Regions from separate parts of the Homo sapiens genome. Here region 1 is linked to region 2. The links come from fine-mapping of genetic effects on gene expression. A gene starts in region 2. The other region holds a variant in brackets. All regions are shown on one strand. Distances are between the middles of the regions. Region 1 overlaps ITGA2B (integrin subunit alpha 2b). Region 2 holds the start of DUSP3 (dual specificity phosphatase 3).

What was found.
Region 1: its variant is fine-mapped to the expression of DUSP3 in whole blood (INTERVAL, PIP 0.95).

The regions. Positions count from the first base shown.
Region 1 is chr17:44,376,131-44,384,130 of GRCh38, forward strand. ITGA2B (integrin subunit alpha 2b) reads right to left here. Exons shown (of 30, transcript NM_000419.5): 10 at 7,955-8,000; 11 at 7,764-7,816; 12 at 7,363-7,574; 13 at 4,749-4,931; 14 at 4,470-4,515; 15 at 4,256-4,360; 16 at 4,116-4,171; 17 at 3,872-4,023; 18 at 3,559-3,684; 19 at 2,513-2,580; 20 at 2,232-2,379; 21 at 1,568-1,660; 22 at 879-958; 23 at 178-258; 1 more. Among named protein-coding and RNA genes, the nearest start is that of ITGA2B, 9.5 kb to the right of the region's middle. RefSeq lists an enhancer at 3,327-4,283. The variant C/T (reference allele first, on the strand shown) is at 3,622.
Region 2 is chr17:43,766,820-43,782,164 of GRCh38, forward strand. It overlaps DUSP3 (dual specificity phosphatase 3), which reads right to left and starts at 12,158. Exons shown (of 3, transcript NM_004090.4): 1 at 11,981-12,158; 2 at 7,893-8,119; 3 at 1-2,995. The coding sequence starts at 12,105. The coding sequence ends at 2,790. It overlaps CFAP97D1 (CFAP97 domain containing 1), which reads left to right and starts at 13,616. Exons shown (of 6, transcript NM_001136483.3): 1 at 13,616-13,767; 2 at 14,300-14,370; 3 at 14,955-15,073. The coding sequence starts at 13,644. RefSeq lists an enhancer at 11,422-11,716 and a silencer at 11,649-12,338.

The sequences.
Region 1 (8,000 bases), 610 kb after region 2:
TGCTCCCTCTCACCTTCTTCTGCTGCCACCACCAGGGAGGCTGGAAAGGAGTTCCTGCAGGTGCCCAAGACCCCCAGAGAGAGTGTGATGCCCTGATTGGCCTGTGAGGTTTCCCCAGCGCCCCCTGGAGTTTAGAGCCCTGAATGCCATCTCCCTTCTCCACCCCTGGCCTCTCACCCTCGCAGCTCCACTTGGGCCTCTGCCCGGACCGGCACGTCCAGCAGCACAATCTTGCTGTTTGGATTCTGGCTGTTCTTGCTAGAGGGGAGGGGATGAGGAGAAACAGGGCCAGGGACACCAGCCCAGTGACTTTCTGGGGGTGAGGCCAGAATTTTAGAGAGTTCAGAGAGAGCTAATTATACAAAGAGCATGCCACACTGAAGTTAGACCTGGGAAAGAACTTCCTCTAGGGCTCCAAGACTCAGACATAAATCTCTGAGGAAGAAAGGGAACCAGGCTTCTTCAAAGACCTTTTTTTTTTTCTTTTGAGATAGAATCTCGCACTGTCGCCCAGGCTGGAAGGCTGGAGTGCAGTGGCCCAATCTCAGCTCACTGCAACCTCCACCTCCCAGGTTCGGTTCAAGCTATTCTCCTGCCTCAGCCTCCCGAGTAGCTGGGATTGTAGGTGCGCACCACCATGCCCAGCTAATTTTTATATTTTTAGTAGAGATGGGGTTTCACCATGTTGGCCAGGCTGGTCTCCAACTCCTGACCTCCAGTGATCCTTCTGCCTTGGCCTCGCAACGTGCTGGGATTACAGGTGTGAGCCACTGCGCCTGGCCTCGAAAGACCCTTCTGTATGGAAGGGACCTGAGGGGCTCTGCACGGGGGTCAGACGGGGGAAGGGTGGTGGGTAGGCACGCTCGCCAGGTCAGTACCTCCGTATCTGCAGCTGGAAGGACACAGACTCCCCAGCCTCTTCCAGATTCCCCACGCTCACCAACATCGCGATTCCTATCTGGGAGATGAGGAGGGCCAAGGTCACTGCCCAAGTGCCCCACTTAGGACAGCCCTGCCCTGAATGTGGCCTCCAGTCTTCACCCTCCAAGATCACCACTATTCTTTTTCTTTTTTTTTTTTTCCGAGACGGAGTCTCACTCTGTCACCCAGGCTGGAGTGCAGTGGCATGATCTCGGCTCACTGCAACCTCCACCTCCCAGGTTCAAGTGATTTTTCTGCCTCAACCTCCCGAGTAGCTCTGACTATAGGCGTGCGCCACCATGCCCGGGTAATTTTTGTATTTTTAGTAGAGACGGGGTTTTGCTATGTTGGCCAGGCTGGTCTTGAACTCCTGACCTCGTGATCCACCCGTCTCGGCCTCCCAGAGTGCTGGGATTACAGGCGTGAGCCACCGCACCAGGCCACCATTATTATTTCTATTTTACCTGGAAGCCCACTGGGTAAAGGGGCTCAGAGAGGGAAAGTCACTCACCCAAGGACATGTGGCAAGGGAGTGTGAGGACCAAGATTCTGGCCCAGAACTATGTGGCTCTAAAACCTCACCCCTAAAATCTGGTTATTCATGAGCCCCTGGTGGAGACCCGGTACCACGACCCAGCAGCCTCACCTGGGCGTTCTTCTTCATGGGGTTGCCCAGCTCACACAGCACCACCCTGGTCTCATTCTCCTTCTTCTGATTACAGATGAGTCTCTCAAAGCCCTTCAGGAAGGCAGTTCCAAGAAAGAAATTACAGAGCATCATATATATATATTTAAGCTCCCTTGGAAGGTCTGGAAAGATTTGTGTGCCAAGGTAGGGAGGGGGGGGTTTCTTGGGGTGGGGTCTCAAGGGACTGTCACATGCTAGTGTGTGTATTGCTGTAGCACTACTACTTTTTAGGCATTTTCATTTTGGAAATAAAAAACACAAAACATTAGAGTATGACCCCCATTATTATAAACTATATTAACAACATAAAAAATAAATATATACTTATGTGAGTGTGAGTCAATATTGAAAAAAAGACTGGAAGGAAATCCACCAAATGTTAACAGAGGTTCCTGTTAACATTTGGTTCCTAAACCTTTTTTGTTTTTCTGGTTTTTGTAATAGAGTTTTGGAATTCTGTGCCATTAGCAAGTATTCCTCCTCCAAATTAAAAAAAAAATAAAAAATTACATCTTTGACAGCAAAGCAGAAGAGAAGAGGGACTCTCAGGGAGGGAGATGAGAGAGCCAAGGCTCCAGTGCCTCCCAGGTCCCGGGTACTGTTCCCAGGGTGGGGGCCATACCTCGACATTGCTTAGGGCCCGCATGTAGTGGGCGCCCTGGGGCAGGTGCACGGCCAGCTCTGCTTCATAGGCCCCCTCGCCCTCGTTGGCTGCGTCCATCTGCAGCTCCAGGACATTATCTGCCCCAACTAGGAGCGGGGAGCCCGTCCTGTGGGGAAAGAGGAGTGAAGCCAGGGAGCCTGGGTCTGGGCCCAGGATGTGGGAAAAGAGGGGACTAAGGTGTGGAGCAGGTATGATAGGCAGAAAGGGCCAGGGTCGGGCAGAATGGGAGGCCTCCTCACACGCTGGCAGTGAGCTGAAGCTGGGGCACACATACGTCATCTTCCCCACAGTCCAGGACGATTCGTGTCTAGAGGGGCACATTGGGGTGTGCGGGTAAGTTGGGGATGTGTGAGGTTTAGGGATTACATCAGGGTTAGGAAAACAGTGGGCTTGGGGTTCACATAGGGGCTTAGGGAGTAAGAAGATCTGAGGACGAAAAGGAGTTTGTAGATGGTATCGGGGCTCGGGTTTATTTGGAGGTTTGGGACAATGTCAGGGTTTGTCAATTTACATCAGAGCTTAGGGGATACTGGGATTTTCAGGTGTTTATTTTATTTTTGGAGACGGAGTCTCGCTCTGTCGTCCAGGCTGGAGTGCAGTGGCACTATCTCGGCTCACTGCAAGCTCCGCCCCCCGGGGTTCACGCCATTCTCCTGCCTCAGCCTCCCAAGTAGCTGGGACTACAGGTACCCGCCACCACGCCCAGCTAATTTTTTTTTTTTTTTTGTATTTTTAGTAGACGGGGTTTCACTGTGTTAGCCAGGATGGTCTTGATCTCCTGACCTCGTGATCCACCCGCCTTGGCCTCCCAAAGTGCTGGGATTACAGGCGTGAGCCACTGCGCCTGGCTTTTTTTTTTTTTTTTGAGACAGAGTCTTGCTCTGTCACCCAGGCTGGAGTGCTGTGGCACACTCTTGGCTCACTGCAACCTCTGCCTCCTGGGTTCAAGTGATTCTCCTGCTTCAGCCTCCCGAGTAGCTGGAATTACAGGCATGCGTCACCACACCCGGCTAATTTTTTTTGTATTTTTAGTAGAGATGGGTTTTCACCATGTTGGCCAGGTTGGTCTCTAACTCCTGACCTCAGGCAATCTGCCTGCCTCGGTCTCCCAAAGTGCTGGGATTACAGGTGTGAGCCACCATGACTGGCTGGATTTTGAGGTTTTCATTAGGGTTTGGAATGACATCAAGGTTTTGGGGTTCACATTGTGACTTGGCACTAACCCTAATCCTGATTTGCTATCAGGGGTCCTGCACCTCCCTGGCCTGTCCCTGCCTGTCCCTACCTGCTCCTGCACATGGGTGTCTCCATGCAGCACGACAGCAGGGGCCATTCCAGCCTCCGTGGG[C/T]GGTAGGGACACATTGAGGCTGAGCACAATGGGGCTCAGCTTGTCCCGGAAGTCTGCCTCATCCTAGGACAGGGGCAAGAGTCAGGCCATCTTGCTACCATACACATCCCACCTTCTCCTGGCCAGTAGGCACCGTGTCCTGACCACCCCCGGACTCACAGCACCCAGCTCAGTGCCCCAGGGCTAGATGAACAAGTCCAGTGGGTAAGTTCTACTCTCCCAGCCCTGCCAATCCCCTGCCTGGGCGTACTCGAAGGAAGGCCATGGTGGTGTGGCAGATGGGGCTGTGCTTTCCGCCCAGATCCAGGTTCAGGGTGGTGCCTGCCTGTTGAGAGCCCAGCAGCAGCACCCGCCGGCCCTGGCGGGGCTTCTGCCGGTCCAGCTGCAGCTCGGCATTTAGGGCTGGCAGGGCAAGCAGAAGAGTCAGGACCTCCCTGGCCAGCCTCCGGGGGAGTCCAAGCCCACCTCCCTCCTGCCCCCTTCATGCCACTCACATAGCTTCTGAGGAATGTTGTGCCCAGTGGCTCCAACACACATCTGGATGTTGAAGCTGCAAAGACGTAAGTGGGGCTCAGGGGTTGGAGCCTTTCTGAGGTCCCAGATCCTTTAAGGCCCATGCCCTCTGCCTCCTCACCAGCTCACGGGTGTCTTGGTCTGAGGTAGGACACAGCTCTTCACAGCAGGATTCAGTGAATCTTGCACCAGTAGCTGGACAGAGGCCTTCACCACTGGCTGAGCTCTGATGGGATAGGGTGATGGGGTAGGCTTGCCATTGTGGCTCCTCCTGGCCTGGCCTCCTCTTGATGGCACAGGACCTTCCCCATCCCGCCCCTGGAGCCAGTGCTCACCTGTACACAGCCACCTGGTTGGCCCCGTAAGCTCCCACGATCAGGTCTATAGACATCGAGGAATGGGTCAGAATTGGCGATTAGGGCATGGGATCCTCATCTCATCTTCCCAGGGGTTCCCCACACCACCTCCCCCACTGGAGGTTTCACCCAGCCCCTCTGGCAGTCCATAGTGGGACACCAGGCCAGGCATGAGCCCCTGGCCGTGTCTCTTGGCACTTCCAGCGAATGTCCAAGGGCCTTTCTTGGGCATTTCTAGCTGGAGGCAGTCCAGGGCACCTGGGTATCCGTTGTCATCGATGTCTACGGCACCTCGAAGGGAGAAGCCAAAGGCAGAGCCTGTGGGGAAGGGGCTGTCCAGGACCTGGGAGGGACGTGACCTCAGCCCCTCACTCTGACCCAGGAACACCAGCACTTGGCCCCGGCCACTGGGACCCCCGTAGGGGGCAGCCACTGCAATGTCTGGAAGGAGTAACAGAAAGGAAGTGGCTGATTGTTATTCAGCCTCCCTAGATGACTGTAAAACTTTCCTGAGCTTCTCTGGGAACATCCCAGGAGACTAGGAAAGGGGTGCAAAGTGTGGGTGAAGGAGGCACTGCCCTACCCTCCAGGAGTTAACAATCAGGTGGGAGAGGGACCTGCCAAGTAGGATTGTTATAAAAACAGTGACAACTCTCACTGTCTATTGAGGAAAATATATCCTGAAAATTAAGCATCATTATTCCCTTTTCTAAATTTTTTTTTTTTTGAGATGGAGTCTCGCTCTGTTGTCCTGGCTGGAGTGCAGTGGTGCGATCTCGGCTCACTGCAACCTCTGCCTCCCCCGTTAAAGTGATTCTTGTGCCTCAGCCTCTTCAGTAGCTGGGATTACAGGCGCCTACCACCATGCCCGGCTAATTTTTGTATTTTCAGTAGAGACGGGGTTTCACCACATTGGCCAGGCTGATCTCGAACTCCTGACCTCAAGTGATCTGCCCACCTTGGGCTCCCAAAGTGCTGGGATTACAGGTGTGAGCCACCGTGCCCAAGCCCCTTTTAAAATTTTTTTATTTTTAAGACAGTCTTGCACTGTCATTCAGGCTGAAGTGCAGTGGTGCAACCATGGCTTACTGCAGCCTCAACCTTCTGGACTAAAGCAATCCTCCCACCTCAGCTTCCCAAGCAGTTGAGACTATAGCCACCATGCCCAGCTAATTTTTAAAAATTTTTATGGAGACGAGATCTCCCTATGTTGGCCAGGCTGGTGTCAAACTCCTAGGCTCCAGTGATCCTCCTGCCTCGGCCTCCCAAAGTGCTGGGATTCCAGGTGTGAGCCACCGTGCCTGGCCATCTAGCATCTATTTCTAGCCTTCTCCATTCCATCAAACTCCCAGACCCCCCACACTTCCTTCAGCAGGTGACGTAATCTCTTACTTCAGGAAGAGAGGCAGCCCACTGTTATGCTATAATCCCACACCAACTTTCTTTTCCCTTTCCCCATTTGACCCTGGAAGAGGTTTCCTTCCTTCACCCTGACACTGGGCCAGTCACCCTCCCACCCCCTGAGGCATCACAGGGACTCTCTGCTGGCTCATCCCCCCATTTCCCCACAACATCATTTTCAACCTACTACATGTTCTTCCACATTGAAATAATCTTCCCTTGACCCTCATCTCTTTTCTGTGATCACCTTTTCTCTTTTTCCTCTTATAGTCAAACATGTTTTTTTTTTTCCTTTCTATTCCTCAAATTCCTTTTTACCACAAACCTGTTGAAAGAGCTGTCTACATTAGCTGCATCCAATTTTTCATCTCCATTCATACCTTACCCCATTGCATTCTGGCTTCTGACCCTATCTTGGCCTGAATCAATTTATGTCACTGTCACCAATAACCTCCCCTTCTTTTTTCTTTCTTCCTTTCTTTCTCTATTTTTTTTTTTATTTTGTTGAGATGGAGTCTTGCTCTGTCACCCAGGCTGGAGTGCAGTAGTGGCGCAAGCTCAGCTCAGTGCAACCTCCACTTCCCGGGTTCAAGAGATTCTCCTGCTTCAATTTCCCAAGTAGCTGGGATTACAGGTATGAGCCACCATGCCTGGCACCCTCTTCTTGCTAAAGCCCATGAATATTTCTCCAGCCCCACCTAATTGTATCTTGCAGCAGCAGCAGGAGCTGCAGCGCCCACTTCCTCCTGTGCATGCTCTTTAACGCATGCTCTTCCTTGAGTCCCGGGCCATCAGACCCCCTGGGTTCCCTCCTCCCTCTCTGGACACTCCTCTGTCTCCTTCTCAGACTTACCTCCTGTAGGAGTCACCTAAATGCTTTTGCTCCCTAGGGCTCTATCCTGGGCCTCTTATTTCACAGGTCCCGGGACCTCATCCACTTTCCCCAAACCCCTGTCTCCCATTCAGATCTCTCTTGTGGAAGCGGGGAGAGCCACTCCCAACTGTTCTTTGGATATTTCCGCCTAAAGCACCCAAGCCCTTCAAGCTCAACAGGTCCAGAGCTGAACTGCTGATCTCCCGCCTCTCCCCAGCACCTGCTGCACGGCCTGAGTTCCAGGCAGTGGAGGCCATCACAGGCACCCAACTCCAACCTCTCCCCTGGCCCCACATCCAGTCTCCCACCAAGTCCTAATAATCCGAGTCCTAAATATCTGTGAAGTCACTCCCATCTCTAACTCCACTGCCAAAATCCACATCCAGGTGGTCATTGTCTCTTGCTTGGATTAAGGCAAACACTTCCTAATTAGTCTTCAACTCTCCCATCTGCTCTCCACTCAGCACCCCATGTGTCTAAGCCACATACTTATATGCTTAAAACCCATCCTGGTTCTGGCTGCCCTCAGGCCAACTCCATGCTTTTTGAGTGGCTGTTAACCCCTCTGCAGCAAGTAGGGCTCCTCTCTTCCCTCACCATTGTAGCCATCCCGGTCGAGGTCGCCCAGGGGTGCGATGGCAGAGCCGAATCGCCCATAGAGCTGTGTGCCAGTCAGCAGGAGGCTGGGGGCACCCAGCGCGTGGGGGCCTCGCGGCTGCAGGAACAAATACACACGCCCCACTTCGGCCAGTTTTCGGTCTGCCCGGCTCTCCATATACAGTGGAGCGCCCACCAGCAGATCATGCCTCCTGTGGGCCAGATGAGTGGTTACATGGGACTGGACCAGGGGTATATTGGGGCTAGGGCCAAATCTCCTCGACCCTTGCTCTCCTGTTCCTCCAGTGGATACGTGAGACTAGGGCTAGGAAAGGGAGACAGAGGGCAGCTCTGGTAATTTGGGACCCAACTGGGTAGGGGTGGGGCATGTCCCTCCTCACCCATCCCCGTTGACGTCAGTGACAGCCACTGAATGCCCAAAATACGACGCCATCTGCAAGATGAGGAGCACCATCATTCACGCCGCTGGACAAGCATCCTCTTTAAGAAATGGGCCCTCACCTCCCATGAAATATTCTGAAGTCTCAGTTCCCCCTCCACCCAGCCACGCCCACTGGGACCTGGCCCCCACCTGCTCTCCGCGCAGCCGATGCAGCCTCTGGTAGTAGGAATCCAAA
Region 2 (15,345 bases):
AAACCATTTGGCGCTCTAATTTTGCCTGGATGGTGCTCTGTCAGTCAAAGAAAGGGAACAGGTCTGGGGAGGGGGTAAGGGCACCCTGAGTTCCTGTTCCATCACTTCCCAGGCAGTAGAAGGCTGTCCAGGAACAGCTCCCATCCGCAGCTGGGCATGTGTTGGCTCTTACACAAGAGACTTTAATTTTACTTGAAGAACTAAGAGCTAAATCTTGTTAAGTAAATACGGGGTTTCAGGGGTGAAGGACTATCAAGAAATCCCAAGTTATCAGCATAAAAGTAGTCCCAAAGTAAAGGCAGTAATTCTCCCAATGGCCTTTTCTCCCTCATGCCCCCACAGAGACTTTCGAGAGGTCCTAGTTAGCCAGCCACACCAACCTGCTGTGTTCGCGTAAGTAGCTGTGCCTGTCCCATGGGGTGACCACTGCCTGGTCATGGGAGGGGAGCCCCAGCCCCAGCTCCCTAGCCTTTTCCAGGAGCAGAGCAGAAAGCTCTACTTCGGGGTGCTACATCCCACCTGGAGAAAGAGCTGCACATTCTAGCCTATGAGGGACCCACCCTTTTCACTTGCTTCTCCGGGGCTGGATTGAGGGTAAGTGCAGTACACCTGGAGATCCCAGGGAGCCCCCTTCTTGAGAAAGAGTATCGTATGAAAGAATCCAGCTTCAGGGAGCAGCAAACCCAAAATCTTGCCCAGCTCCACCTTATGGAGCTGGACAACCCTGGGGGCCAGGCCCTTAATCATTCTGAACCTCAGTTCCTTTTTTTTAAAAAAGGTCACAATACAAGAACAAGCTCTACTAACTTTACAGGGTTACTGTGAGGCTCAAGTTAGATTAAGTTGGAAGGCTACCTAGAAGCTGTGCAGTGAGGTACCCAGTTTAGAGGATGGCCATTTCACTTAGGTGGGTTTATCTGGACACCTTTTTCACTATCTGGAGAAGAAGACACATACTGGTTGTTCAGGGCTGCTGTGGTCACAGAGAAAAGCGGACAGCAAATGACCAGGCTGGGCAGGGCTGCTTCTGTGTGATCAGAGACCTTCCCAGCCGGGAGTGAGGCCTTACGCCACACCTGCCTCTCCGTGTCCCAGCCAGGAGCTCCTGGCCAACTCTGAAAAAGGCACATTCCCTACCTTGGCATATTAACACTGCCTGAATTTAAATGTAAAACTGAGTTGTAAATAGTCAACAAAAGTCCCTGATATTTCTTTCGTTTTAGGTAAGACTCCTTCACAAGGCCTTGCGAGTGATCCTACCATGAATTCAGTCTTCTGGGAGCGTGACACACCCACCAGAACAATGCCCTATATATATTTGGTGCTCAAAAAGTGTTTACTTTCTTAAACTTTTATCAGACACCTATGTGCAAGGTGCTGGGGGCATGGCTGAGGACCTTCTCTTTGCCCAGAGTGACCCTGAAGATAAATAGCATCACAATCACTTTCCATAATAACAATAACGTAAAATCCTAACAAGACTGTATTTAAAACAAAACTCTTATATTCTGGCAAATGTGCATACACATGTGAGGGCTGGTGCATTCCAATATCATCCTTAGAAAGTCTTTTGAAAGGTTTATCGTGTTTGGGTTTTTTTGCTCTACCACCAATAAAGGATCCATTTGGACACTCCGCCATGTCTCATGTCTGCCTGGCTGAGTCACTTCAGGGATCCCGTGCTGGCACCAGAGAGCTGTAAGAGCCACCTGCAATGGGCAGGGTGTGTGCCTGGGACCTTTCACTTCCCTGCTTGTCTTCTGGCCGCGTTTCTGAGAGGCACGCCCCCCACACACATCCATGCACACACGCTGTAATTGGCCAACTTCCTCCTTCTGTTCTTGGAATAGCAACCGAGACAAAAAGCAGTTAGCACGAGTGGCTTGGGCTTGCCAACACTACAATTCAGGACAAAACCCTTGTAATTCTCCAAATGGTGGGGTTTTTAAATAGGTTGGACTTCAACTCCCTGTTTTCTAAAAAAGAAAAAAAAAAAAGCATGCCCAAGGCATCACTCTTCTCAAAAACGAAGTGACTGAGATAAGATCGAAGGGAAATATTCCAGAGCAGCAGATTCTGAACTCAAGGCTTCCAAAGATTCACATTTTGAAAACTCTATGGATTTAGGAGGGTTCTCCAGGTTTGCCCACAAGGCCTCTTTGTGTAGGGACCATTCATCCTAAGGAAATCATTCAAATGCAGCCTTGCTGTGGGAATCTCCATCCACTAATAACTGACGGACACCCCCACCCCAGCTTCGGACCTCAAGACGTGAGAGGGCTGCCTATGCACAGGGTGTGGAAGGCTGTGGGGACAGTGCAGGGCACAGACGTGGTGGGGAGAGTGGCCTGCATTTGCATAGTTCCTTTACTAGGGCTCAAGGTGTTGAGGTCCACACTCAAGAGAGGATTCGGGAGTTGGGGAAGGGAGGTCATGAGGGACCTCTGTGAGCATCTTAGGCCTTACACTTCCACACACCTCCTGCCGTGGGCCATCGGGAAGCATGCAGGCCACAGGCCTTCCCCCTCTGAGCCCCCATCTCAGGGAAAAGACATCATAAGTTACAGAAACAGGACAACTGGGGAGCAAGGACGCCCCCCTTGGCAAGCTTCTTTATGTGCTCCCCAGGGTGGGGAAAGTGGCCCAGGACTGTGTTGGGACACACTTGTAGACAAGTGCCTTGTGATGCTGGGAGCAGGGTACAGTGTGTTTCCTAAACATGGCAGCTCGGGACACCTTTGCCCACGGCCTCCCCCACGGACCTCTCGAGCAGAGGTGGTGGGGGTGCCCTAGGGTTTCAACTTCCCCTCCTTGGCTAGTCTGTCATTGAGCTGGCAGAGCTGGGCCAGGAAGCCATCGTTGGGGCCGATCTCACGGTTCTGCCTCACGATGCTCAGGGCAGACTTGACGTCCATCTTCTGCCGCATCATGAGGTAGGCGATAACTAGCGTTGGGGAGCGGCTATAACCTTCCCGGCAGTGGACGAGCACCCGGCCTGTAAGAAACAGGGGAGACGTGGTGAGCTGGGGGCGTCCCATCACACCATGGCGTTGGTCAAGACTCTTCCGTGAAGTGCCACTTAAAAGCACAATGTCACGCCACTGTGTGCCTGTCAGAATGGCTAAAATGAAAAGGATGGAAAACCCAAAGTGCTGGTGAAGATATGGGGCAACTGGAACTCTTCTGCGTGGCTGGGGGAGGTGAGGCGTGAATTGGCACAACCACTTTGGAAAGCTGTGCGGCACGGCGGTATCTCCTCAAGCTGAACACGTGCATCCCCTCTGGCCCAGCAATCCCACTCCCAGGCCCAGGTCCAATAGAGATACGCATTCACATTCACGAACATGGGCCAGAATGTTCACAGGCAACACTGCACATCATGGCCCACAGTTAGAAACCCCCAAAGGCCCATCCACAGTAGAAAGGACAAATACAAAGAATGACCAGACTGCCACTTAGCAGAAGCAACACGGAGGCAGCACACACATATGAGGTGGATGAGCCCACAGAGTAGGAAAGCGGGCAAAACCATCTGTGCTGTCAGAAGCCTGCAAGGGGCTGGGCACAGTGGCTCACGCCTGTAATCCCAGCACTTTGGGAGGCCAAGGCAACTGGATCACAAGGTCAGGAGTTCGAGACCAGACTGGCCAACATAGTGAAATCCCGTCTTTACTAAAGATACAAAAAAATAGCTGGGTGTGGTGGCGCGAGCCTATAATCCCAGCTACTCAGGAGGCTGAGGCCAGAGAATTGCTTGAACCCAGGAGGCAGAGGTTGCGGTGAGGTGAGATTGTGCTGAGATTGTGCTCCAGCCTGGGTGACAGAGCGAGACTCTGTCTCAAAAAAAAAAAGAAGCCCGCGTGGCAGAGGCCCTGGGAGCTGGGGATGGGGGTGGTGGAGCATAGAGACTGGGGGTGCTTTCCAGGGTGCTGGTAGTGTTTTGTTTCTTTTTTTTTGAGATGGAGTTTCCTTCTTGTTGCCCAGGCTGGAGTGCAGTGGCGCGATCTCGGCTCACTTCAGCCTCCGCCTCCCGGGTTCAAGCAATTCTCCTGCCTCAGCCTCCTGAGTAGCTGGGACTACAGGCGCATGCCACCATGCCCAGCTAATTTTTTTGTATCTTTTAGTAGAGGTGGGGTTATTTTAATATAGTGTGTGTGTGCGTGTATATATATGTGTGTGTGTGTGTGTGTGTGTGTGTGTGTATGTGTGTGTATATATATATATATAAATAGACACCATCTCTCAATATCCACAGGGCAGATTGGCTCCAGGACCTCCTGCCGATACCCAAATCCACAGATGCTCAAGTCCCTGATTATAAAATGACATCATATATGCAAATAACCTCTGCACAGCACATCCTCCCCTATACTTTAAATCATCTCCAGATGACTTATGATACCCAAGACAATGTAAACATTTATTAGATTATATCATCTAGAGAATAATGACAAGAAAAAAAATCTGTACATGTTCAGTACAGACATAACATCTTTTTATGTTGTTTTTAATATTTTTCAGACTGAGGTTAGTTGAATCCACAGATGTGGAACCCACGGATATGGAGGACCGACTGTATATTCTATTGGTTCTGTTTTTTCTAGAGAATCCTGACCAATACACTGGTTATTAACTCATGATCCACCTAACCTCAAGGTGCCTCAGTTTTCTTATCTGGCCAATAGTACCCATTGCACAAGGTGGTTAGATTAAAGGAGAGGACACATGAATCCTCTAGGTTAGCACCTGGCATCCATGTGCACTCAATAAATGTTACCCAATACTGGGCATCCTCTGGTAGCACCTAGTACACCCTCAACTACAGCAGCCCTGGTCCTGTGTCATTGCCAGACATGCGCAGATTGACTTTTCTCTCCCAGAGGACGAATTCTTTAAGAGCAAGAAATGGCCGGACACGGTGGCTCACACCTATAATCCCAACACTTTGGGAGGTCGAGGTGGGCGGATCCCCTGAAGTCAGGAGTTCGAGACCATCCTGGCCAACATGGCGAAACCCCGTTTCTACTAAAAATACAAAAAATTAGCTGGGCATGGTGGCACATGCCTGTAATCCCAGCTACTCAGAAAGCTGAGGCAGGAGAATCACTTGAACCTGGGAGGTGGAGGGTGCAGTGAGCTGAGATTGAGCCACTGTACTCCAGCCTGGGTGACAAGAGCGAGACTCCGTCTCAAAAAAAAAAAAAAAAAAAGGCAAGAAATGTGGGGCATTGATTTTTGGATGCGTTACAATCTCTAGCATACACTATGTGCTCAATAAATATTTGCTGACTAGCTGAGTGAATTATTACCTACTAACACCTCTATAAGGCCATTGTTTGGCAAGGAATCTGCTAGCCCAGAGTCCAACAGAGTCTCTTCTGCTCCTATCACCCTACCCCCAAAACACCACTCTATTTTCCCAATGCCTTCCAAATCAGGAAGCAGGAGTCCTCCACTTTCTTGCCCATTCACCCTCCGGCCTGTATGCCCGAAATATTCAGAGTGGGGCTTCCCCTGCCCCACCCTAGGAATGAGACCCTCTGCAGAGCAGCCACCTTACCATCTAGAACATACTCTGCATGCCCAGTGCACACAGAGCCTACTGGGAAAGGGGCCAGTTCAACCTCCCATTCCTCTAGGCTCAGCCCAGATGCCACCTCCTCCATGAAGCTGTTTTCCCAGCTAGAAGTGACTGCTCCCTCTTGAGTACCCTCAGCCATCCCACCCAGCTCTCAGTGATGGGTCCCTGGGCCCCACACACTGTTGGAGGCCAGCATGTTTCTGTTGACTCACTTCGCCACTCATTCTTAGAAGCATTTATACTTGGCATTAGAGCCCATGGAATTCTTCATCACTTGCTCATTCATCATTTGCAGTGTACCTACTATGTGCCTGATGCTACATCAGGTGCTAAGGAGACAGACAAGGAACAAAGTAGACCCAGCCTGAGGGCAGGCTTCATGGAAGAGAGGACACCATGCCAAGGACAAGGTGGAGTTTGCCAGAGGAAGGGGTAGGGAGAGGCAGAGAGAACTTTTCAGACTAAAGACCCAGCACACCTGGACTGAGACAGGTCAAAAAAAGGGCGTGTTCCTAGTTGTTTGGAAAGAGGAAACAAAGTCAGAGAGCTTGAAATTCCCTGAATGAATAACCAATTGCTATTATACGAGAACAACAAAATCCTTCCCCTTCGCCCAGCCTATGTTTACACAGGGTGAGGAACTCAGTACAGCTGGAGTGGAGGAGGTGAGCAGGGTTGGGGGGTGACAGTGACCAGGAAGGACCATGAGGGGCCTGTCAGCAAAGTCTGCAGATACTCCACAGTAAAGCTTCTCTCTGAGCCCTGAGCGTTCACTGTCCAGTGGTCTAGAAAATTCTGTTTACTGGAAATCATTCAGACAGTGAGCCTGCTGGGCCCAAGAGTCATCAGTGTAGTACAGCCAAGGCTGTTCACACCTCATGGGGGTCCCCTCCGCTGGGAGGGTTTGGGGTGGGGAGAGACGAAGAGGTAAAGGGAGGAGCTGAGAGAAACAGCTAAAAGCAGAAAGGGAGAAAGGGCAAGTGGCCCAGCCTGCTCAGCTGATGTCTGCTTTGTGGCCTTCTAGGGTTTCTTGCTGGAATGCCTTGGTGACTGCCAGCGCCTTGGTAGTTCTCCTTCAGTCTTATCTTATATTTGGGGGCTGCAGGAAGTGTTTCGTAAGTGGCTGGAAGATTTGGCCAGGGGGGCTGTGGTTTGCTGACTGCCAACCTAAGCTGACCGCAGCTACCCCTTTTCTCCTTGCCAGGCAATCACGTGAATCTCTAGCCAATGAGATGTGAGGGGTATTTCTGGGAAATGTTTTACTTGTTCTTAAAGAGAGAGACTGGGCATGGTGGCACGTGCTTGTAGTCCCAGCTACTCAGGAGGCTGAGGTGAGAGGACTGCTTGAGCCCAGGAGTTGGAGACCAGTCTAGACAACATAGCAAGACCCTGTCTCTTTAAAAAAGAGAGAGAGAGTGGCCAGGCGCGGTGGCTCATGCCTGTAATCCCAGCACTTTGGGAGGCAGAGGGAGGCGGATCACCTGAGGTCAGGAGTTGGAGACCAGCCTGACCAACATGGTGAAACCCCATCTCTACTAAAAATACAAAATTAGCCAGGCGTGGGGGCGCATGCCTGTAATCCCAGCTACTTGGGAGGCTGAGGCGGGAGGCTGAGGCAGGAGAATCGCTTGAACCTGGGAGGTGGAGGTTGCGGTGAGCCAAGATCGCGCCATTGCTCTTCAGCCTGGGCAACAAGAGTGAAACTCCATCTAAAAAAAAAAAAAAAAAAAAAAAAGGAGAGAGAGAAGAGGAAAAAAAAGAGTGGGAAGAGATGGCTGCAGGGCCTCATCTGCTGTACTTTGTCCTGCTTGGATGTGGTGACTGGATCCCATCTTGGGACCATGACGGGAGCACCCAACACTGAGGTGGCAGAAGAGAGAAAGGGAAAGGGCCTGGTCCAGAGGCCACCATGGAGCTGCTGAATCAAGCAGCCCCTTAATCAACCAGCCCCCATGCTCCTTCACCTCAGGACTTCTTGCCATGCACATTAACACATTAACACATCTTCCTCATCGTTACAGCTGTTTGAATGGGGGACGTGTAAGCAACTGGAAACCAACCTCCAGCCAAAGTGCAGTCAAACGCGAGGACCCTGGGGCTGCCATGGTGTGAATGAGTTGCACATCCTGTGACACACGGGGCCACTTGACAGCCAGCCAGGTGAGCAGAGAGAGACCTACAGCTCTGTCGTTCACCCCAGAAGATGGGAAACAAGGGAGTTTCTAAGAAGAGACCTGTTGTGGGCCTGTTTTCCAGAGGGACAGTCCAGTCAGAGCTGCCTCCCATCTTTTCCTGGTGGGAGGTCCCTTACCATTCTTTTGAGCCAAAGCCTGGTCAATGAAGTCGGCAGCCCTTTCAAAGTAAGCGCTGAGGTTGAACTCCTGTGTGTCGTTGGCCTTGATGCCCAGGTATGTGATGCCGGAGTCCTTGTAGAAGTTGGCATTGGTGTTGACGTGCATGAAGGACCTGCCCTCAGCCGCGTTCAGCACATGGGTGATGCCTAGTTTCTGCAGCTTGGGGATGTCCTGAGCCACAGACCTGGACAGGAGACAGTGGTGGGGATGATTAACCAACCAAATGGCAGCCCCAGGGGGAGGAAGATGGAGAAGGATTTAAGCCTCTTAGCAAAGCAAGGAAACCCTCCATGCTCTGGCCCCTGCCAGCTTCTCCTGCCTCATCTTATGACCTCTTCCCTCACTCTGGCCATATCGAATTGCCAGCAGCTTCCCCAAATAGACTGGTGGTTTCATAGCCATGCTGTCCCCTCTGTCTGGAATGCTCTTTCCCACCTTCTCTGGAGAAATGCGCCCTCTCATCTTTCACACCCTCCGCAGTGTTTGTCTCCCCTCCATTCCATTTGGCCCCATGCTCCCTAAGCTGTGGTGGGGGTGTACATAGCCAACTGGTTACAGATGGGCTCTGGAACCAGACTAACTGGGTCTGCATCCTGCCCAGGTACTAGCCAGGCAACCTTAAGCAAGCCATTTAACCTTTCTGTGCCTCAGTTTCCCTCTCTGTAAAATGGGGATAACAGTGCCTTCTCCTTGAGGTTGTTATGAGTATTAAATGGGCTATTCCATTGACAGAGCTGGACACGGTAGTGAGCACTATGATTCTAATGCTTGATTGTGCTTCTGTGTTTAGACATCCAGACTGTGAGCTCCTTGAGAGAGGAACCATGTCTGCTTTAAGTCTGTTTCCCCACCATCTGCTATAGTACCTGCTACATAGTAGGTGCTGAATAAATAAGCGGTGAATGAGTGCAAAAGAATAAATTTGTCACGTACCAGGCAGCCCCCTCCCTGCCCCCAGAGGGATCCTACCTGCCACATTCCACTGGCTACGTTTCCAAAGCTCTTTTGGGTGATTTAGTACTTGGGGAGTAAGTGGCCCCAACAGAACTATGGGAGGTTACAAAATAATTTATCTAAGGTCGGGTGCAGTGGCTCACACCTGTAATCCCAGCACTCTGGGAAGCCGAGGCAGGTGGATCACCTGTCAGGAGTTCGGGACCAGCCTGGCCAACATGGTGAAACCCCGTCTCTACTAAAAATACAAAAGTGAGCCGGGTGTGGTGGTACATGCCTGTAATCCCAGCTACTCTGGGATTACAGAGGCTGAGACAGGAGAATCACTTGAACCCGGGAGGTGGAGGTTGCAGTGTGCTGAGATTGTGCTATTGCACTCTAGCCTGGGTGACAGAGTGAGACTCCGTCTCGAAAAATAAAATAAAATAAAATAAAAATAATAATTGGTCTGAATGGTGAAAAGGCCCCTTTATTTCATCTCACAAAACATCCCAGTCCAAATAGCAGTTTATACTTTATAAAATGCCACCTCCTGTGTGATCTTGCTTGCCCACTGCGAGCAGCCCTGTGAGGAACAAGGATGGCAATATCCCTGCTTAACAGAGCTTGAACTCAGGCCCAACAGGATGAGCAGAGGGATGGGCACAGGCCCCGTGTGCTGCTGGTGGCAGATCTGGGAGAAGACCTCCTTTCTCCCGACATCCAGCCCTGCTCTATCTTCCACCTCACTCTGCCCCTCATGCCCACATCTGCTGCAAAACCCCCAAGGCCTGGCACATGTGGCTCACACAGGCTCTGGCTCTGCCTTGTGAGGACGTGGCTGCGGCCCTGATTTTGTTAAGGGAATGGAGCCCAAATCCTCTTGGTGCTTGGTGCTCACTGATCCTCCCTGTTGAGGAACCCCCACACCCCTGGCCAAGTCAAGGTCAGAGGTGCTTAGAGGGCAAGGGATGTATTTTCTACAGTGGCCATCAGCAATTGCCACTCTGGCTACACCAGACGTGTACAACCTTGGTTTCCACTTGGGAAGTGATGACAGCTGAATGGCCAACCTGCCCAAGCAAGCGGGATTCCTGAGGCTAACAAGGCCTGCTTGCTGCTTGGTGCAAGAGGAAGGGTGTCTCTAGAGCTTTCCAATTCCTGAAGCCTTTGGCTGACACTGTGGGACTCTGTTTATTCCTGCTTAGGACACCGCGCAAGACTGTGAAGCAGTGGCTGATAGAAAAAAACACTTTGAAGAGTCACTCCCATTCATCTCCCTTCTCTAATACTTTTTTTTTTTGAGATGGAGTTTCGCTCTTGTTGCCCAGTTGGAGTGCAACGGTACGATCTTGGCTCACTGTAACCTCCACCTCCCGTGTTCAAACGATTCTCCTGCCTCAGCCTCCGGAGTAGCTGGGATCACAGGCGCCAGGCACCATGCCCAGCTAATTTTTGTATTTTTAGTAGAGACAGGGTTTCACCATGTTGGTCAGGCTGGTCTCGAACTGCTGACCTCAGGTGACCCACCCGCCTCGGCCTCCCAAAGTGCTGGGATTACAGGCGTGAGCCATCGTGCCAGGCCTCTAATACTATTAATAATTCAACATTCAAAAAATTTACAATTATCATTATTACTATCTCTACTATGAATGAACATTGTACAGTGCCTGACATAAAGCAGGTGCTCAGACTGGTGAATGAATGATGGAATGGATGAGAACTGTCCCCATGAGGCTGGGGCCTGATGGACCCCTTCTAGTTCCATGATGACCCCCATTTCCGTGGCAGTCCTTGGCAGGCTAAACAGCAGGTCATAGCGGAGGTCAGGAAATACATACATGAACAAGACATTGACCCTGTCCTTGTAGTCCCTCACACACTCTGAGCCACCATTTCCTCCTCTGTAAAATGGGAGGAGGGTTAGTTTTGAGTTTTCAACATGCCATCCTTGGGCTGAGCCATGAAGCTTAGGATTTTGGTAACTGGGTCCTCAGAGTATCGTGAAAATCCAACTTGAGGCTTTCCAAGGCTGTACAGGCATGCTAATATATTCTTTCTTGAGGCTCCTATTTCACATCTCAGAATGTTAACACTGGTTCTTTCCTGCTGATTAGACATTCTTACTAGAAAAAAAATTTAAAATTTAAATTAAAAAAAATCTCTTACTGTCCGGGTGCGGTGGCTCACGCCTGTAATCCCAGCACTTTTGGAGGCCGAGGTGGGCGGATCATGAGGTCAGGAGTTTGAGACCAGCCTGGCCAAGAGACCAGCCTGGCCAATATGGTGAAACCCCGTCTCTACTAAAAATACAAAAAGTAGCCAGGCGTGGTGGCGGGCGCCTGTAATCCCAGCTACTCGGGAGGCTGAGGCAGGAGAATTGCTTGAACCCAGGAGGCAGAGGTTGCAGTGAGCCGAGATCTCGCCATTGCACTCCAGCCTGGGTGACAGAGCCTGGGGGTGAAAGGTCAAGAGCCTTTTCTAGGTGGTGGCTCAGGTCCTTAGGGGGGTTATCACTGGACCGTTCTAGAATCTCCTGTAAATCAAATCACATCTGGAAGGTGGGGGCCTGGAAATCCCGGCCCAGCTCCCCGGACTCGCTCATTTGGGGTGTTTAGGTTCCCTGATCCGGGACTGCCGGGCCGGGAAAATTCCATGCCCGAATTGTGACGTCGGCCCGTTGCCATGGCGGCGAAGGCAGACATTCCGCGGTGACCTCACTGCAGAACCAGGCAGCTGTCACATGACGCGCGGGCAGGAGACCGGCCGGGCGACCGAGGGTCACCTGTTAAGTGAACATGGTAGCCCCGACCCCGCCCAAGGCCAAGCCCCAAGCGGGTGGCGGCTGGGACCCGGGCAGGCGCCACCCGGGCTCCGTGCACCCCGCCACGGGGAAGGGCCGCGCCCGGCCAGGCAGGGTTCCAGTTCCTTGGCCCCACGCGCGGGGGTAGGCGTCGACTCCAGGCCCCTCCCAAGCCCCCGCTGTGGCTCCCGGAGGGGCCATCGCGCCCGGGCTCCCCCAACCCAAGACTCGCGACACCCCGACCCCAGCCTCGGGTGGGCGGGGCGTCCCGAGAGGGACGGCGGGGCCGGGCTCGCGAAAGGGACTCACGCGTTGCCCACGTAGATCCGCGGGGTGACCTCGTTGCAGGGCTGGCTCGGGAGGCTGTAGCAGCCGCTGCCGTCCGAGAGCAGGTCGTTGAGATCCTGCACCGAGAGCTCGAACGAGCCCGACATGGCGGCGGCGGGGCCCTGCACGCCCGGCAGGAGCAAGCGAGGCGGAGAGCGGCGGATCAGCTGGGCGGGGGCTCGCGCCGGGAGCCGCCCCGTCCCGCCCCTGGGGCGGGCCCGCCGGGCTCCGGGAGCTGCGGAGCGCGGGCGCCGTGACGCGGGGGCCCCGCGCGCCACTCCTGGGCGCGTCCCGGGGGGAAGACGCCACCGCCCTGGAGTCTCAGGGGTCCTCGCCCCATCCCGGTCCAGGCCGTTTGTGTATCTTTGTAAACTGGCAAGCGCGGTAACTTCCTTCCCTGAATTAAATGCAGGGCCCAATAAACATTTCGTGGCGGAGGTACACCTAGGGGTCGCTTCAGTCTTTCATGATTACAGGGACCGCCGGGTTCGGCTCGTGAGCGGCTCCCTGCAGTGGAGGCACCACCCGGGCGCTTGACAGAATCCCCGCCCCAGCCCAGCCCTGCTGGATCAGAGTGGACATTTTACGGACCCCAGGAGGTCCCTACGGTCAAAGTCTGAGAAGCCCTACTCTGGGGCGCATCTGCTTTCAACATTCATTGAGAGTCATCGTCGTGCTTAAAAGCAGTCAGGTTTGGAATTCTGAGGAATTACTTAACCTGAGCCTGTTTGCAGGGAAAAAAAAAAAAAGCGGGATAGTAATGGTACCTAATTCTAGGGTTGCTGGAAGGGTTAAATGTGACATTCAAAGAAGGCACCCAGCACTGCATGGCGAGCACTCAATAGGTGTTAGTCCTTCATCAACAAATGCGTTGAGCACCCAGTGGGTGCTATACCCTGTGCTGGGGTGGAGATAAATCAGACTCCTGCAGCCCTTCCTGGAGCAGATGCCAGCCCACCATAAGCCACTCAGCATTTCCTGAACTCCCACTAAGTACAAAAGATAGTCTCTGTACTGGAGGAAAGCTGCCCTCCCCTACTGCCATGAAAAACTGGCAGTTTCCTTCCTGCAAAAGGGCAAATTTGGCCTTGAATTCAGGAACCCCACATCCTGAGCCCAGCCCTGCCACCAACTTGGTTCTTGAGTAACGTTGCTGCTGCTGTGGTCTTCAGTTTCCTCATTTGCAAAAGGAATTGGATCCGATTATCATTAGGGTCAACTTTCTCCTCCTCCAAAACTTGTGGTCTTGCACCTTCAGGGGAGCTATTGCAGTGGAGACTACTTAGCTGATAGCCCAAGATGTGTAACCAAGGCTGGAATTTCTGTATCCCTCACCCCACCCCGTGCCTGCCCACCCCTCCCGGTGCACCACTTCTTTCCTTCTGGTGTTGGCTGGCAGCATCTGCATTCTAAGCAGCGGGGAAAGCTTTCGAGTTCCTTGACCTTCATCTTGACTTGAGCCGAGGTTAGCATTAAAAACACAAGCCCAGAGGCAGCCAGCCATGCTCTGCTGCTCCTACTCCCTTCCCGGGACCTGTCCCTGATGTCATAACTGGGTAACTATGACAGCTTGTCATGGGGACAGCTAGGCACCTCACAGAGGAGTCTGGGTACCTCATTTCTGAAGTGAGACTAGGAAGAGAAGATGAACAATTCCCTGGATTATCTGGCCTACCCTGTTATCGTCTCTAATCACAGGCAAAGCACAACCTTCAGAAAGAAACTGGACTTTGGCCACTACGTATCTCACAAGAATAGAATACAAATAGGTATGTGGGCAGTTTGGGCTGGACACTGCTATTAGGGATTTTGGAATGGTACCCCATAAAGAGATCAACAGGAAACCAGACCAGGTCACAGCTTTGGGATGATATGGCCTTATCTGCTGAGTTTGGGGAAGAGGGCATTAGCACCAATAACAAAATGTATCTTCCACCAGGGAGTTCACTGGATGGAAATACTCCTTTAAACTCCTTAAAGCCGAAGTACGTTAGAAAGGGGATAAGACTTCAGAAGCCAATAGACAGGCTAATAATATTGGAAAAAGATTGGAAGAGAAGCTCTTTCATTGGATTAGAAGGACATTTATCTCTGTAAATTTTATTTTCACTATTCTTTTGTTTCTGCTCAAAACTCTCCAGAGATGTTCATTTGATAAATCAAACCAAACTTCTTGAGTCGCATTAAGGTCCTAATTCGAAATTGTTCATTAGTCAAGGACATTGTCTAGTGCTGGTTTTCTGAGGCCGCTACTGGAATTCCTGTGATGTAACATTGTTCCCTTTTATCCCCCTTCTCTAGCGAAGCCTACTGTTGATACCAAACCTCCAGTGGCGCACACAAATCACATTTTAAAATTGAGCAAACTACAGGTATTTGTTCTTGCTGCTTGCAGATGTGCAGATGTATTTTATTGACTTCCAGTCTGTTTCCTAAAGAGGTTCAATTTCCCAGAGCCTTCTAAATACCCATCTACTCAAAGATTTGTTAATACTCCTCCTCCCCACGCGTCACCCCCAGTCGTTTTTTTCCCCCCTGATACGGAGTCTCGCTCTGTTGCCTAGGCTGGAGTGCACAATCTCGGCTCACTGCAACCTCCGCCTCCCAGATTCAAGCAATTCTCCCGCCTCAGCCTCCAGAGTAGCTGGGATTACAGGCATGTGGCACCATGCCCAGCTAATTTTTCATATTTTTAGTAGAGACAGGGGTTCACCATGTTGGCCAGGATGGTCTTAGTCTCATTACCTCCCGCCTGCCTCGGCCTCCCAAAGTGCTGGGATTACAGGCGTGAGCCACCGTGCCCGGCCGCCCAGTCTTTTAAGTTCTGCTTCCAGTCTCCACTGTGGCCCTCAATGCACCCCTTTCCCACGATCTCAGAGGAGGGGAACACTAAGTCATTGTGTGTTGGGGCAGTGCACTGATGGTGTCACCATGGTGAGGTGTGGTTTCTTACCAGGGTGAACAAAAGAAAATCAACAAAATCGAGTATGAAAACAAGCAACTGTGTCAGAAAATCGCAAATGCCCATCGCGGCCCTGCCAAGGTGGATTGCTGGAATGAATATTTTTCCAAGAGGTAATGTTCTTTGTCTTCATTTCAGTTTTGAAAAGTCAAAATTGACTTTCCTCTTGGGTTTTAGTGTGAGGTTTTCCCAAGTCAGAGAAGTACTTAAGGGAAGTTATCTTGAGGGAGAACCAAACAGACCATGTTACACAGAATGAAAACTTTAAAAATGGGGACCTTTCTCTAGCATTAAAGAGCTTTTATTTCATCGAAGAGACTTTTCAGAGTCCTATTCAGTGTGTCACAAGAATGCACTGCGCACTTTTATAAAATGGTGGCCATGT